Regions from separate parts of the Homo sapiens genome. Here region 1 is linked to region 2. Evidence: fine-mapped expression QTL. A gene starts in region 2. The other region holds a variant in brackets. All regions are shown on one strand. Distances are from middle to middle.

The links.
Region 1: its variant is fine-mapped to the expression of PDLIM1 in whole blood (INTERVAL, PIP 0.96).

The regions. Positions count from the first base shown.
Region 1 is chr10:95,266,038-95,271,412 of GRCh38, reverse strand. It overlaps PDLIM1 (PDZ and LIM domain 1), which reads left to right. Exons shown (of 7, transcript NM_020992.4): 3 at 2,551-2,635. Among named protein-coding and RNA genes, the nearest start is that of PDLIM1, 22 kb to the left of the region's middle. The variant T/A (reference allele first, on the strand shown) is at 2,757.
Region 2 is chr10:95,288,921-95,294,295 of GRCh38, reverse strand. PDLIM1 (PDZ and LIM domain 1) reads left to right here and starts at 3,293. Exons shown (of 7, transcript NM_020992.4): 1 at 3,293-3,476. The coding sequence starts at 3,381. RefSeq lists enhancers at 643-732, 4,457-4,776 and silencers at 1,223-1,292, 2,936-3,015, 3,066-3,455, 3,506-3,605, 3,626-3,735.

The sequences.
Region 1 (5,375 bases), 23 kb after region 2:
CAGGCTGGAGTGCAGTGGTGCAATCTCAGCTCACTGCAACCTCTGCCTCCCGGGTTCAAGTGACTCTCCTGCCTTAGCCTCCTGAGTAGCTGGGATTACAGATGTGCACCACCACACCCAGCAAATTTTTGTATTTTTAGTAGAGATGGGGTTTCACCATGTTGGCCAGGCTGGCCTCGAACTCCTGACCTCAGGTGATCCACCTGCCTTGGCCTCCCAAAGTGCTAGGATTACAGGTGTGAGCCACCGTGCCCAGCCCCCCTCTGATTTTCACGGTGCTTATGATGTGGGCTTCTTTCAGTAAGATACTTGCATTTTCACTTGATCCAACTCAACCAAAATTTTGAGTAAGTAAAATGTCCTGGCCAGGTGCGGTGGCTCTCTTTGTAATCCCAGCACTTTGGGAGGCCGAGGCAGACAAATCACTTGAGGTCTGGAGTTTGAGACCAGCCTGGCCAACATGGTGAAACCCTATCTCCACTAAAAATTAAAAAATTAGCCAGGTGTGGTAGCGTGCACCTGTAGTTCCAGCTACTCGGGAGGCCGAGGCAGGAGAATCACTTGAACCCAGGAGGCAGAGTTTGCAGTGAGCTGAGATGGCGTCACTGCACTCCAGCCTGGGCGACAGAGCGAAACTCCATCTCAAAAAAAAAAATGTCCTTAGGATGCTGCTGCTACTGCATTGTGCTGAGCAGTGGGTACCATGCCAGGAGATTGCAATAACAGAGAAAAACTTGAACACATTAGCAGCAGAGTACTGAGTGTAACTTTAGGTACATGACAAGCAAGGAGCGCTGGGGATAAAAGAATGAATGAGGGTAGCACCTTGGGAGCTGTAATTAGGGTAGAATTTCCATTCTTCTTTCATTTAGCCTTGGAAGGGGTCCCGCAAAGGCAGGATTTCGGAAGTGATTTGGTTCAACCCTCAGTTGGCTCCCTGTTTCCTACTGCATCAAATTCAGATGTTTCATTCTGATCACCTGTTATCTCACTAACCTTAGCTGCCACAGCTCTTTGTCATGGAGCCTTTGGTTAGATTCTCATCTGTGAAGTATGTTTTTTGCTTTTTTTTTTTTGCTTTGTGGCACAGGACTGGCAGGTGGATCGAGTGTGGGGGAGTATATAAAAATATTTTGTACACTTCAGAGACCTACCCCATGAGAGGTACACTGTGTTATTACTACCCCCTCAAAAGCACATCTGCCCTTCATTCTCATCTCCATTTCTATCTTTGTCCAAATCCTCTCCTTCAAGCCCGAGTTCAGGACATTCATTCATTCATTGATTAATTGATTTTTTATTTGTTTACCGGCATGTTGAAAAGGGACATCTTGTATATCTGGCATAGACATTGTGACAAATATAAAGTTAAGTATGGCCAGGTATGGTGGCTCTAGTCTGTAATCCCAGCACTTTGGGAGGCCGAGGTGGGTAGATCACCTGAGGTTAGGAGTTCAAGACCAGCCTGGCCAACATGATGAAACCCTGTTTCTACAAAAACACAAAAAAATTAGCTAGGGATGATGGCAGGTGCCTGTAATCTCAGCTACTCGGGAGACTGGGCTGGGAGAATCGCTTGAGCCTGGGAAGCGGAGGTTGCAGTGAGCCAAGATCACGCCATTCATTGCACTCCAGCCTGGGCGACAGAGCGAGACTCTGTCTCAAAAAATAAATAAATAAAATAAATAAAGATAAGTATAAATATTTTCTACCTGCAAGAGAGGAAACAACGACACTAATGAAAACTGAGACTAAAGTAAAATCATTGCTCTGTGGTTGGTACAAAGAAAATAGTTTATAAGAGCAAAAGAGGGGCGTTCTTCTCTTTTTTTTTTTTTTTTGGGATGGAGTCTCACTCTGTCACCCAGGCTGAAGTGCAGTGGTGCTATCTCAGCTCACTGCAACCTCTGCCTCCTGGGTTTAAGCAAGTCTCCTGCCTCAGCCTCCCGAGTAGCTGGGATTATAGGCGTATGCCACCACACCCGGCTAATTTTTGTATTTTTAGTGGAGATGGGGTTTCACCATGTTGGCCAGGCTGATGTCAAACTCCAGACCTCAAGTGATTTCCCCACCTCAGCCTCCCAAAGTGCTGGGATTACAGGCGTGAGCCACCACGCCCGGCCAAGAGGCATTATTTTCATTTGGGTCAAACAGGCTTCACAAATAAGTTGGTTATTTGGTCTGGACCAAACACACTGGGTTGAGATAGAGGAGAAGCCCATTCTATCCTGAGCAGAGATAGGGCAGTGTGAGTCATGCTTAGGAACATGGAGGAGACCACACTGCTGGTGTCAGCTACCCAGAGTGTGGTGAGGGAGGATGAAGTGCTTGGGAAGCCCCTTGGGGCTATGCTGGGGAGCCATCAGCCATGGATGTTATCAGATTGGGGTGTTTAAAAGATCAACCTGGTGGCAAATGGAAGGTAGAGCTGATGGGAGGGTGCTAGTTCAGTGCCTAGTCCAGGAAAGAGGGGGCATTTTTCCAGTTTGTCTTTGGTATATATTATTTATTTTACATGAGTGAAACAGCAGCTTTGTTAATCTGTTGCAGATCTGAACATAAAGTCTGGTCTCCTCTGGTGACGGAGGAAGGGAAGCGTCATCCATACAAGATGAATTTAGCCTCTGAACCCCAGGTAAGTTCTTGCTCATCGTTGCCGCTGCTCTCACCACCCAGCACTTTGCCGTTTCTGACACTGCTCAGCACATTCCTGTTTTTCCTGCCCTGGAGGCCTGGGGATAAGACCCTTCACTGTC[T/A]CTGCTGGTATCTGGCTCTTGTTCAGTTCTTCCCGTAAGGGAACTGCAGGAGGATAGGGCTGGAAAACCCCAGGGCAGTGACGCTGTGTCCTGGGCTGGAAGCAGGGGGTCGGAAGGCGATAAGGGAAGCCGGTGGAAGCCTTCCTGCGTGGGAAGGGTTGGCAGGATCACAGTGAAGTCAAGGAGCTATTCAGCTCGTTATGGATTTCAGCAACAAATGAATCATGACAGGGATGAAAATAAGTTTAGGTCTGGAGGCCTAGAGCCTAGAAGAAATCGGGGAATATGTAATAGGAAGCCCTGCTTCTCCCCACTGTATGCCCCTGTCTGGTTTCCATGAGCCATGGAGTGGAAATCTCTATTTTTGTTACAGTGAAACTTCTAGTGAGACTTTAAAATTACTAAAATAAAGCAGCAATTAATATAAAAAAAAGCAGTACATAGTGTACAATTTGTCACCCAGATAGAATTTCTCAGGACAGTAGACTGCCCTAAGATCCCATATTTGTGAATAAATCTCTCAGTAGTTGGATTATTGGATTGTAGGTGATTTTATTTCTTTCTGCCTTATGTGCCTCTTCTAAATAATCTACAAGGCATGGGTATTGTTTTTGAAATAAGGGACAAACTTAGAGATGTTTAGAACATCTTTTGTAAAATTCCTCACACCCAACATGCTACTTGTCTCAAAGTATGTGTCTGTTGGATACATTAATGAATTAGTAATGATAAACTAGGTATGTTGATAATGCCTTTTGAAAATTTTACACTGGTTTGTGATGGTTATGCATTTGACCCAAGTTGAAGATTTGAAATTTAACTTATTTTTCTAAATTTGGGATACTATTTAGTTTTTATGGTGAATTAAGATGTAATTAAAATACAATATATAGCTAGCTATCTTTTATACATAAAACAGAAACTTGTATGAAGTTGAACTCACTTGGTATATTAGTGTGTGTTAATTGGGTGGTTGGATATAAGTCATATTTTCTCAAATAGAATCCATTAAAATTTCAAAAACGAAGTCACATAAAATTTTTGCCATTAAGATAGTAAAAATAATTATTAAAAATCCCAAGAGTCATTTTAAGGATCATTTTGCATCATTTCAAAACTGATGTGAACATATTCTTCTATACAACTCCTCTCAGGAAAGTTCGTAAAATGGCACTTGGTCTATACACTGGCAGTTGTGCAAACTAATTTAAAACATGCCACAGTTAGTTTCAGTTTCCTTGGGAGTTCTCAGCTACTTCATTAAATTTACCATAAATGTTAAATTTTAATTGTTAAATTTTAATTTTTACATATTTTATAACACACAAGGAATGATTTCGTTTTAACTTGGTCTATCTGAAATCCTCATTTTCATGTAAATAAGGTAATTATGTAAATTTCAGTTATAGTTTTCATTTGTAGTATATTTGAATTTTCATTTTAAATCTGTAGTTACCTGTATTAATCTTTTGAAGGTAGTTCTCTTCAGATTACAAAAATTCTCAAATACTTTAAACCCTTGTATTTTTCTTGTGATTCTAGTAATGCTTTATTACTGTAAGAAAAACTTCTCACCCATCATTTTTCCAGTCTTTTACTTCCAGCCATTCTAAAGTAGAGGATAAATGAGTAAGAGCAGAGTTCATCTATAATAAAAAGATCTGTTGGTTCATGTAATGCCAACCAACACCCCAGCTTATCTGAGGTCAGCATAGTTACACACCTAGTTTGTACTTCCTCATTATTGAGTTTCCTTGGAGACTGATAAATACAAAGCCCAAACAATTACATCATCCCTTCTAAAAGGCAAGCCCTGAATCTGCCTGCTTTCTGGAAAGACCAGTCAGTATTCAGATGAGGGTAGAGATATTCCTTTTATGTACAAACCAGATGCATTCTTGAAAGATTCTTTAGAAAGTGAAATCATCCGAATTTTCAACCTGAATTTTCCATTGACTTCCATTCTAATTGGAAATGTGTTTCGGTGGAGGGAGAAGGGAACAGACCCTGGTTGAATATGTGCCACGAGCCAGGCACTGTACTTGACACTCTAGTAACTCACACAAATCCTTGTAAAGAAGGCTTTATCTTCTTCATTTTAAAGATGAAAAATGGGCTTAGAGGGGTATTCCTTGCCAAACAGGAAATTGCAGGGAAAAATTGAGCCAAGGCGGAAAAATAAAGACCCTTCCTTGGGGCTCTGCATCCTCTGCTGCTCCTAGGAATTGCCATGGTGATGGAGAGAAGAAGAAAGAATGACCATCCTGGCTGCGGCACATGTAGGCAAGGGTACCAGGCCACCCATCTGTAAATCTCTGTCTTCATGACCATAGCCTTTAATTACTATATATTATTTATTTGGGTAGCTGTGCCATAAAATTTACTTAACTACTCTTTGATAACTGCTGAAGTTTTGTGTTGTTTTTTATTTTTTGTTATTTATTTTTATTTTTTATTTGTGAGATGGAGTCTTGCTCTGTCACCCAGGCTGGAGTGCAATGGTGCAGTCTTGGCTCACTGCAACCTCTGCCTCCTGAGTTCAAGTGATTTTCTTGCCTCAGCCTCTGAGTAGCTGGGATTACAGGCAGGTGCCACCACGCCTAGCTAATTTTTATATTT
Region 2 (5,375 bases):
AAAGGATAAATGATCAGGTCTCTATCCTGAGAAAGACTAGCATTTAGTCTCCATCCAAGGAGCTGGGACCATTTTGATGTTTATTATGAAAATTTTACATCATCATTAGAGGCAATTATTAAAAAAAATTCTCATTCTGTCTGCCACTACTTTTCCTACTTTCTCTTAATTTCAATAGGTAGATAAGCTTTTATTTTTTAACACGGTATACGAATAATTTTGTTGCACTCTTTTTACATATTTTGAAAACACATTTCCCTGTCTCTTCACAGTCTTCCTGGTTATTTTCATGCTGCATACTCTTCCCTCTTACGGCCATACCATATTTAGCCACTTTTCTGTTACTGGTTGATTCCAGTTTTTTGTCATTATAAATAATGCAGCTATAAATATCTGTATACATACAGCATTTTTCTTTTTAAAAATTATGTCCTTGGAATTGTTGCCCAGAAAGTGGATGACTGGGTCAAAGGGCTGACTGTTTTATAGCTCTTGTTATGTAGAGCCAGACTACAACCGAGGACATTTAAAAACAAAGCAACTGAGGACTCAAGTCTCACAGACATTTTGCTAACACATTAGTGCACTATGTCTGTATAGACTATTGTACGGAATAAACACTTATTGACACCTACTGTGATTGAGGTCCATGCTAGCAGGGCACTTGGAATGAATGAAAGGCAGTCTCTGCCTTCAGAAGCACAGAAGCTGTGACTTTTCAACCCTTTTCTCCTTCTAGGACAGAAAATATTCAAGATGGTTACACATCTAGGGACAGATTCAGAATTCGGTGATTCCTGCAAATTCTGCAGGGACTTGAAACACAGTCATGCTTTCTAATCAACAGAATCTTAAACAAAGAGAATGTATTTTTGGTGTTCATAAAGCAGGTGGCTGGTTACTGGCTATAACACCATTCTTTTTCTCAGGTTCAGGAAAGAATATCAGGTTGCAAGAGGTTGAGAGGGATGTATAATCATACAACTCCACTTTCATTTCCTTTTTTTTTTTTTTTTTTAGACCGAGTTTCGCGCTTGTTGCCCAGGCTGGGGTGCAATGGCGTGATCTCGGCTCACCACAACCTCCACCTCCCGGGTTCAAGTGATTCTCCTGCCTCAGACTCCCGAGCAGCTGGGATTACAGGCATGCGCCACCACGCCCGGCTAATTTTTGGTATTTTCAGTAGAGATGGGTTTCTCTATGTTGGTCAGGCTGGTCTCGAACTCCAGACCTCAGGTGATCCGCCCACCTTGGCCTCCCAAAGTGTTGGGATTACAGGTGTGAGCCACCGTGCCCGGCCCTCCACTTGGATTTCTAAAAGCAAACAAACTATTCCCAAACATAGGCATTTGTGCTGTCACACAATTGGACAAGCAAGATAATCTTTTTATGTGTAAATCTGTGCACAGGGCTCTTCAGTAGGTAGGCCAGGATCACAGGGAGACAGAGCTGCACAGGGAACAAACTCATTGAGCATGGGCTCTATGCCAAGCACTGTGCTGGGGCCTGGGTACCAGGATGAATGGGTGCCAAGAAAACTGCGAAGAAACTGGGCCCAGAGAGGGTAAGTGGTCCTGAGGATGGCCAATGTGTTATATACATTAAGTACTATGTGCCAGGCACTATTCTAGGCACTGGGGCACAGCAGTGATCTAAACAGATAAAAACCCCTGTCCTTATGGAATTAATGCTTAAGAGTGGGGGTGGAACAAATAAATATACAAAATATAGAGAATGCCAGATGGTGATACATACAAAAGAAAAAAATAAGGCAGGGGAAGGTAATAGAGCATTCTAGAGAGGATATCTTAAATGATGCTCAGAGATGACCTCAGAAAATGACATTTGCATTTTTTTTATTTTTTAGTTTTTGAGATAGGGTCTCACTCTGTCACCCAGGCTGGAGTACAGTTGCACGACCACAGCTCACTGCAGCCTTGACCTCTCCGGCTCAAGCCATCCTCCCACCTCAGTCTCCCTAGAAGCTGGGACAGGTGTGCCCCACCAAACCTGGTTAATTTTTATTTTTTTAAATTTTTTTGTAGAGACAGGGTCTTGCCGTGTTGCTGGGGCTGGTCTAGAATTCCTGGGCTCAACTGATCCTCCTGACTCAGCCTCCCAAAGTGCCGGGATTCCAGGCGTGAGCCACGTGTCCGGCCCCTAGAAAATGACAGAGAGTGGTGGGGATGTCTGGGAGAACAGCATTGCAGACAGGGCCCTGAGGCAAGGCCCTGAGTTAGGAGCAAGGAGCACAGCCTGGCAGACTGGGGGGCAGGTGAGGAAAGGGCAGGAGGAGTTGGGGTCAGAGAGGGAGTTGGGGCCATTCTAGGGGTGGCCTTGTAGGCATTGTAAGGATCTGGGTTTTCACTGGTGGTGAGGTGGGGACGCCATGGACAGCATGAGAAATGGTCTGGTCCGGCGTGGAGAATGCACTCCACCGGGAGGGCGTCAGGGGGAGCCTGGCTAGGAAGCTGGTGGGAGGCTGGGAATCCAGGTCCCGGACTCAGCTCTTCTTTTGCATTGACTTGGCCCTTGGCCCGCCCCAAACTTGAGGTTTGAACTGTTGAGGTCAGAACCTACCATGAACTCCAGCCTGGAGGAAAGATTTCTAGGAAGGCCTTGAAGTTCAGTTATAACCTGAGTGATGGTCTCATTAGCATTATAAAAGTTCCAGGATGGGGTTCTGCAGCACTGGGCCCGGGCAGTGGTCCAGATGCTGACGAGTGGTGTAGCGTCGGGCAAGTCTTCTCACCTACTGAGCAGACTCAGTTACTTCATCTGTAAAATGGGACTAAACGTCCCGGTTGCCTCAGCATCAAATGAGATCGTTCGAAAGCACCTTTTAAACATCATTACCGATTACAAAAAGCAAATGGGAAGTCGGAGCCGACCTCAGAGGGCTGACTTGGCACAGCACTTCAAATTTCTCGTTTTACAAAGCACGAGGCGCGAGTTTGTCTCGCTGTCAGGACCTGCTTCCCTCTCACCTAGCACCCGCCCCGGGCCCGAGAGCCGCGGTGCGGCCGTGCGTACAGGAGGGAGGGAGGCGGTGTGGGGTCCCGGGCAGAGCTGCTGAGAGCCCCGGCCCCGCATCTGACTCGCGCTCTCTCGGCGGGACTCCGGGCCAGGGCCCCCAGGCCGGCGCGCAGGGCGGGGAGCGGCTGCGGGCGGGAGGACGGGCGGGGCGGCGGGCGGCTACGCGGCCTGGGCGGAGCCGCCCCCGCCCTGGCCCTCGCGGTTGCCCTGCCCCCGCCAGCCCCAGGCTCCCCGGGCCCGCGCCGCGCCGCTCTTTCTCCGACAGCCGCCGGGGGTGCCCTGCAAGCTGTTCCGCGCGTCCTGCCCGTCTGTCCCCGCGGGTCGTCGCCCGCCACAGCCGCGCCATGACCACCCAGCAGATAGACCTCCAGGGCCCGGGGCCGTGGGGCTTCCGCCTCGTGGGCGGCAAGGACTTCGAGCAGCCTCTCGCCATTTCCCGGGTAAGAGCAGCTGGGACGTGCGTGGAAGCGGGGCGCTATGGGAGGTGATATGCGGAGACTGGGGCCCCGCGGGCGCGGTCGGGGACGGAGTCGGAACCGCAGCCGGGCGCGTCCAGGTGCGCTGTTAGTTGAGCGCTCTCCGCGCGCCCGGGCCCCGCCGCTCCCCGCCGCCCCTTCGCGGAGGCTGCGCTCCCGGGCTGGTCGGCCCGCCGCGGGCGCGCTCCGTGTCCGCCAGAAAAAAAGAAGGCAGTTTTCGTTCTTTGGCCCCGGAAGCGCGGCGGGGCGGGTGTTAGTTCTTTGTCAACCAGCGAGGGGACGAGGGTCCCCGCAGATCCCGCGCGCTGGGAGATGGCACTTCTCCCTTCTTCCCAGATCGCAGTGCAGCCGAACGCAACAGGAAAGACCTGGAAAGTGAGGTGGGGTGGGTGGGAAGTTTACTGGGGTGGGGGGCAAGTGGGATTAACCTAAAAAAACAACCGAAACACGCTCTTTGGACTTGACCCACGGCCGAGGCTCGCCCCTCGAATGGCTTTTGGAGAATGTGCTGGATTCGGGAAATAAACACAACAAACAAACTCAAGTAAACCCTCTTGGTCATTCTCCCCTCTGCAGAACGTGGCCCCGCCGTCATTCTTCCTAGCATTCCCAGATTATCTCTTTCCCCTCCCCGCACCAGCCCTTTTTTCTCAGGGCATGAGTAGATACTGCGATGGGGTGTCCACCTGGGGTGGGGTTGAGGTGCTTGAAATCTAAGAGGGGCTTCGGATCTTTAGAAGGACTCACGTTGAATCAGGGGCCACCAGAACCATTGCCCCCCTAATAAAGTGAAACCCCCAGGGAGACCCAGACTCAGTGTTCAGAGGTCTGGGCTTTGGCCATTTAATCTGGCCAAACACAGGTTGATGTCCCACTAAGAGATGTCACGTTCAGTGCTTGGGCACCAAGAAGAGACTCAGTAAGTACCTCGAATGAGGAAAGGGAGAAAAAGAAGTCCCCTTTCTCCCCACCCATGGCCACTCCTTGCCTGTAGGCGGCACATTCCATTCTTGGGCTCATCTGCCTGCTGAAGCTGCCCTTCAGCTTGTCTCCCAGACTTTCTAAACATCCTTCTTTTTCACTTGGGGTTGGGGGAAGGGTGGAGAAGAAAGGGAAATATCCTTATGGATCCTTTTGACTCAAGCTCCTGCGTCCAGCAGCTGAAGGAGTTTGGTGGGAGGTGCAGGAGAAGAATTGGTGGCCTCCTCTTGACTTGTCTGCCAGCCACAGTCCTACCCATGCTTCTTTCCCGGTTGGCCTGGCCCAGTGAGGAGGTCTTCTCTATCTCACCCCCCTAAAAGAGTAGGCGGGCCAGTTTTTGGGCCTTATCTTCCACCTGTTTGCCTCGTCCCACAGAGACCTCTGATTATTCTCAAAGGTACACACTGCCTTTCCAGCCACCAGCCTAATTCCTCAAGCGCAGGAACTGTGCCTTCCCCAGAATCGTCCCCGAGCCTGGTAGCAGACCTGTACCTGGCCGGGCTGGGTAAATCCTTGCAGGCTTATTAATAAATGCTTGTCCAGGGAGGACATTGTGTCTGCACATTTCAACTCGCTTACCTCATAGTCCATTTGTCCCTGTTCTTTGTGTCTATAATTAACCTGTCAGCCCTCTCCACTTCTGAGATTTATATATGACATGAAACCCTTTTTTAAGTAGTGGAGGATGTATTGGCAATCTGTTAAAAGGGCAGTTACTGCCTTTCACTTTAGCTGCTTTTAAAAGTCTTAATGCATGAGTGAATGATGGAATGGGGTGGAAAACACCACACTGTGAATTCATTGGTTTTTACCTTCATATATTCACTCATTTATTATTTATATTATTTATTTATGGCGTGTGCACGTGTTTAATGAGCACGT